Linked DNA regions of Homo sapiens: region 2 is linked to region 1. The links come from fine-mapping of genetic effects on gene expression. A gene starts in region 1. The other region holds a variant in brackets. All regions are shown on one strand. Distances are from middle to middle.

Region 1 (2,915 bases):
AAAACACATTTATTTCAACATAACTACATGTATGTCTGTGTATGTCTTAAAAAATACCCGAGAAAAGGTAAAATTCTGCATTAAAATACCTAGCAATTTAGTTCGATTCCATAAACACTGAAAGAAGTAACACTCTCACTTAACAGTCAACATTACAAGCAGTCTTTAATAATACCGCATTTAACTCCTTAGAGCTAGCACAAGTTGATCTAATGCCTATTTGGCCCTTTACCAAAAAAGCGGAGGGGGCTTTGTCTAACACCTGTATACACCTCCCTCCGTAGCATCCCGCTCATTCTAGCTTCTTAGGGAAACCATAGACAACGACGTTTCAGAGAGTGCCAGAGGTGAAGCCGACCCGAAACCACATTACAGAAAGGCTTCCTGTTTCAAACAGGTCCAATAAAGCCACCAAATTAAGTCTACGATTATAAAGAACTGCGAATCAGAAAATAATTCCATATAGGTGCAGTCTTCTATTACTTTTTTCCCCACTTTCGGAAATTTCAAAGAAAAATTGCTACATTCTTAAATATGAGGCCATTATTTCAAAGGCTGTAACAACCTGGAACGCAAATTCGTTAAATTATGATACAATAAGGCCAACCTCGAGGATCCTCGGTGGACTACTAGCGCACTTCCTTACAATTAGAAAGTGAAAAACTGGGTCAGCCCTAGAGTCACGCAATAATGCTGCGTCACGAAACTGCGCATTCCAAGAGAAACTTTTCTCAGGCCCAGAATTAAGTCGGAGGGATCCGCCGCGCAGCTCAATCCCTAGGAAGCATGAAAGAATGTATTGTAAAGAGTAAAATCACGCGCAATCCATCCCAATATAACCGCAGTTGTTCGTGGGCCTTCTTGCAGAGAAAGGCTGCCCAACCTTGACGGGGCCATGGGCGCTGCGGGAGGGCAAAAGACCACAGAGATCTGCGAAGCCAAAGTAAACAACGGGGTTGGGGCGGCGAGAATGATCAATAGCGATGCTCCGAAAGGACTCCGCGATAGGAATCGAGCGGGAAGGATTCCCTCCATCCTAACAGTCCATGGGTTAAGAGGCCGAAGCTTCCCTAAATACCACACTCCCGCGAGAGAAGGGACTGAGAACAACTTCTCAAACTATTCTCTCTCGAAATCGCTCCCTTCCTCGAAAATTCCATCTCTGAGACTCGGATGAGGTCCCCACCCCCTCCACCCTTGTCCCGTGACCGTCGCCCGCTCAGCCTCCCAGCCGAGTCCGCGGGGCCTGGGGCGCCCACCCCGCCCACCCAAGGGACCGCGCAGGGGTGAACTCCCCCGCGCCCCACCTGCGCCTTCCAGACCTCGGGCGCCCCGGCGTTGCCTCGAGAGCTCCCTGCGCGGCCGCCGCGGCACGGACCAGCTCCCACTCCCTTACACTGGGCGCCGCTGCGCTCGCCGGGGGCCGGTCCCGAGGTTCCCAAGGCCTCGCGCGCGCGCTTGCCGTGGCAACCAAGACGTTCCACGACGCGCGCTCTCGAACGCTTCGCGTCACGCGGCCGCGCGGCCCCGCCCGTCGGCCTCGCTCCCGCCACAGAGCCCGCAGCACGCCGCCGCCGCAGCCTAGGTCACGTGAGTACCCACGCGCGCGTCTTGCCAGCGGATTCATCACCGGCCTGCTCAGACTAGGTTCTGCCCACTCTGACCTTCTAAATGGTACGTGGGAGGACGTCCGTCCCCTTCGGACCCAAGAGTCACCGTAACACTCTAGAAGGGGAGAAAAGGAGCGAGGGCGGCAGGCGACAGAGAACCTCGCGAGTCAGCGGCCCCGCGCAGACCCCCCCAGGCACGGTCCCCTGCGGCCACGTCGGCTGCTCGGCGCCTGCGCAATCTCTTTCTCTCCAGCGAAACCGAGGCCTCCGGAGAGCCTAGTAGAGAGTGTGGGCAGTGAGCGCTTGTAGCCGCTAGAGGGAGCGCTGGGCACAGTGCACGAGAGACAATAAAGGCTGATTATCCCCTCAATGTCTCTGCAGCCTGAGCTTTGTGACTTCTGTATCCAGAGCACAGTTAATTTCCAAAAGCCCGCCTGCACCACGTGTTTTAAGTCTTGGTGTGTGTGTAAAGTCTATATCACTATCATAAAACTGTTAGTTCCTGATTCCGGGATACAAAGAGTAAAATCAAGATGAACATACTTTACCCTTCTTGACAAGTGTTTTTAAATTAGTAAAATATTGTAGATGACAGACTCTTCAATAGGGCTGCCTTAGGGAAAAAAAAACAGAAAAAAGAAAAAGCAGTATGTACTTGCCCGGAGCATTTAGAACCAGTTTTGTTGTTGTTGTGTTTTTGTTTTGTTTTGAGACAGAGTCTTACTATGTTGCCCAGGCTGGAGTGCAGTGGCATGATCTCGGCTCACTGCAACCTCTGCTTCCCAGGTTCAAGCGACTCTCATGCCTCAGCCTCCAGAGAAGCTGGAATTACAGCTGTGCACCACCACTCCCGTCTAATTTTTGTATTTTTAGTAGAGACGGGGTTTCACCATATTGGCCAAGCTGGTCTTGAAAGCTTGACCTCAAGTTAGCCAGGCTGGTCTCGAATTCCTGACCTCAAGCGATCCACCTGCCTCAGTTTCCCAAAGTGCTGGGATTACAGGCGTGAGTCACCGCGCCTGGCCTTAGGACCAGTTAAGTGACTCCCTCAAATCTCAGAAAGGTAGCAGTCAGTCATCCCAAAAAGCAAAACCTATTAGGAATATATTAATACAGTGGTTTCAAAATGATTTTGCTCTTATACCCCCAAAGGAGTCCCCAAAGACTATGACTGTATTCTCACTTCCACGTTTTTGGATTGACCATCACAATTTCTCATCTGACTTAAATAGTTACAAAAGAAGCAACTTCTGTTTTATTATAAATTAACATTTTAAAATAAAAGTTATATAACTTTTAAATGTA
Region 2 (2,915 bases), 130 kb before region 1:
ACCCCTGAATGTTATACTTGTGCTTGCTTGGGTTTCTCCCACACAACAGGCTGACTCACACTTTTGTTCTGTGGTTAGTCTGAGAAGACAACGAAAAATTTTCAAAGTAGTACTAATTCCATCTGCTAAAGATTTAATATTGATGTCCCCCCAAAATTCATATTTGAAATCTAGCCCCCAGGTAATAGTATTAAGAGGTGGGATCTTTGGAAGGTAATAGGTCATGGGGGAGGAGCCCTCATAAACTGGATTAGTGCCCTTGTAAAAGAAGCCCGCGAGAGATCCCTCACCCCTTCTACCACGTGAGGACACAGTGAGAAGATGCCATCTATGAACCAGGAAGTGGGCCTTCCCCAGATATTGAATCTGCTGCTGCCTTGATCTTGGACTTCACAGCCTCCAGAACTGTGAGAATAAATTTCTGTTGTTTGTAAGCCACCCAGTATGTATTTTGTTATAGCACTTTAAATAGACTAACACTGTCTCACACCTCTGCTCAACAATTATGACTTGATTTTAGCAGCATGGTAAGGCGGAGACTGTTTATTAGATTTCATATCCTAGTATTTAGTATACATACAGAAGGTGATAATAAATACATGTTTTTCCCAATGAGTTTAGAACCACTGCCCTTAGGTAGTAACACAGGTCAAAGAATAGTGCCAACTTCTAATGATGCCCTGCGTTAGATTGCAATAAGACTTGACAGTTTTCTCATCATTCAGTATGTTCACTTTTTAAAACCGGATTTAGTTCTACTAAATCTGCCTCATTTTAATCACAAGTCTTTGCTAGGAAATGTAGAGCTAAACCAAAGTAACACTATAACCATGGAGGAGGGACTGTGTCACACAAAGTCCACAGTGGGCCTGTGCGATCCCACATTGATTCATTTTGAGTGCATCCCCCCATGGTAGTCATTGGTTATAGCTCTATGGTCTGAGGAGATCACAAAGTTACAAATGAACTCTTTTACCTTTAGCCACAGTGACAGCCAACTGCAGCTGTATGAAGTCATGAGGAATTTCTTTAGCACAAAAATGTCAGGCCACCTTCAAGGAGAGAAGCTTCTTGTTTGTAAAGGTGAGGGATAAGCGGGAGTGGAAAAAATGTCATTCACACTTTACTCGTGAATATGTTCATGTATACTAATATGGTTTAAAAGTCAGCTGAGAGGCCTGGTATAGGTGGCTCACACTTGTAATCCAAACACTTTGGGAGTCCGAGCCAGGAGGAATGCTTGAGGCCAGGAGTTCAAGACTAGCCTGGGCAACACGGCAAAATATCATTTCTACCAAAAATTTTAAAAAAAAAAAATTAGGTGTGGTGGCACACACCTGAGAGGCTGAGCCCAGGAATTTGAGGCTGCAGTGAGCTATGATCATGCAACTGCACTCAATCCTGGGAAACAGAGCAAGACCTTGTCTCAAAAAAAAAAAAAAA[A/AAAAAAAG]GTTATCTGAAGTAATTTTAATTTTTTTATTTTGAAAATTTCATACATACCCGAGTATATTTATTACATATGTATTATTTAAAGTATAATAATATGGATGTGTATGTACCTACCACTCAGCCTAACAGACACTATCAATAATTTTAAAATACCTTATGTGTGTCTCTCATTCACATTTCCCTGTCTCCCCAGATATAAATACTATTTTGTTATTTATTTAGTTTTACTTCTTTTCACTGCTGAAGCCAGAATGGATTGTGATGTGTGAGAGAAAGAAATCTTTGTGTTAAGCCTCTAAAGTCTGAGTTATTTTTTATAGTCATAATAGAGAGATTAATAACTTGAATTTAGGTGCTGCCTAAACAAAATACTAATATGTGTGGCATTAACTTAGCAGGTCTGCAGTGAGAGGCACAGAAAGAAATATGGGAGGTTGGAAGCCTGGGATCCCTGTTATGCCATAGCAGACCAAGTGCTTACTAAGACTGTAGGTCAAAGGAAGGATGTTGGGAAAACAACGAATAATAATGTGTTGATATGGTTTGGCTATGTCCCTACCCAAATCTCATCTTGAATTGTAGTTCCCATAATCCCCACATGTCTGGGAGGGACCTAGTGGGGAGTAAATGAATCATATTGGAGGTTACCCCCATGCTGCTGTTCTCATGATAAGAGTGAGTGAGTTCTCATAAGAACTGACAGTTATATAAGGGGCTTTTCCCACTTTTGCTTGGCACTTTTCTTTCTTGCTGCCATGTGAAGAAGGACGTGTTTGCTTCCCCTTCTGCCATGATTTTAAGTTTTCAGAGGCCTCCCCAGCCATGCTGGAACTGTGAGTCAATTAAACCTCTTTCCTTTATAAATTACCCAGTCTCAGGTATGTCTTTATTAGCAGCATGAGAATGGACTACTAAATGTGTACTAAATGTTACTGGCTGCCTTTGGTAAGAGAGAATAAATTGATGAGCTTGCAATATAGCTAACTAGTTTGTAAGGAGAAATAAAAGGGAATAGAGAGAGTCTAGGAAAGAATCTAGAAATTTGGGGCATTGAAGGGCATTAAAGAGTTGGAAAGGCCAACTATTTCTAGGTCCCAAAAAGAAAGAGATAAGGCTGAGAAAAGTCAAGCCACAAAAGGCCACTAATACTCAGCCTTGTGGCAAGGATCAGATTATGGATAGGTGTTAACTTCACATCACCTTAATCAATTAGTTAAATAACCTGCATGGTAGCTGCCATTAGGCAGAGAGAGGTATGGGCCAAAGAAACAAATCATGCTCTGAAATTATATTATACATAGAACTGGCTACTATTTTGATGGAATTTATATAAACTAGGACTAAAAAGCCTTTGAACTGTAAAATCAGCTTTAGACACCCAATTTTGTTCAAACAGATTATGAGCTCTGAAAGCTATGCATCCCCAATAGAGGGCATAACCTCATCATCCACTTCGAATGTGGGCAAGAAGAT

Direction of the effects. Positions count from the first base shown, and alleles are read on the strand shown. Sizes are in standard deviations (SD) of each study's normalised expression.
As copies of AAAAAAAG replace A in region 2, the expression in neutrophils of the gene that starts at base 1,477 in region 1 goes up (moderate effect, 0.56 SD a copy in CEDAR).

The links. PIP is the estimated chance that this variant, and not a neighbour inherited with it, causes the effect. A credible set is the group of variants that fine-mapping cannot tell apart.
Region 2: its variant is the best candidate, but not a certain one, in a credible set for the expression of SPART in neutrophils (CEDAR, PIP 0.59).

What each region holds. Positions count from the first base shown.
Region 1 is chr13:36,344,918-36,347,832 of GRCh38, forward strand. SPART (spartin) reads right to left here and starts at 1,477. Exons shown (of 9, transcript NM_015087.5): 1 at 1,308-1,477. SPART-AS1 (SPART antisense RNA 1) reads left to right here and starts at 1,514. Exons shown (of 5, transcript NR_045181.1): 1 at 1,514-1,590. RefSeq lists a silencer at 1,326-1,375.
Region 2 is chr13:36,217,672-36,220,586 of GRCh38, forward strand. The region is part of intron 6 of CCDC169-SOHLH2 (CCDC169-SOHLH2 readthrough); the gene reads right to left. Among named protein-coding and RNA genes, the nearest start is that of SOHLH2, 4.6 kb to the left of the region's middle. The variant A/AAAAAAAG (reference allele first, on the strand shown) is at 1,444.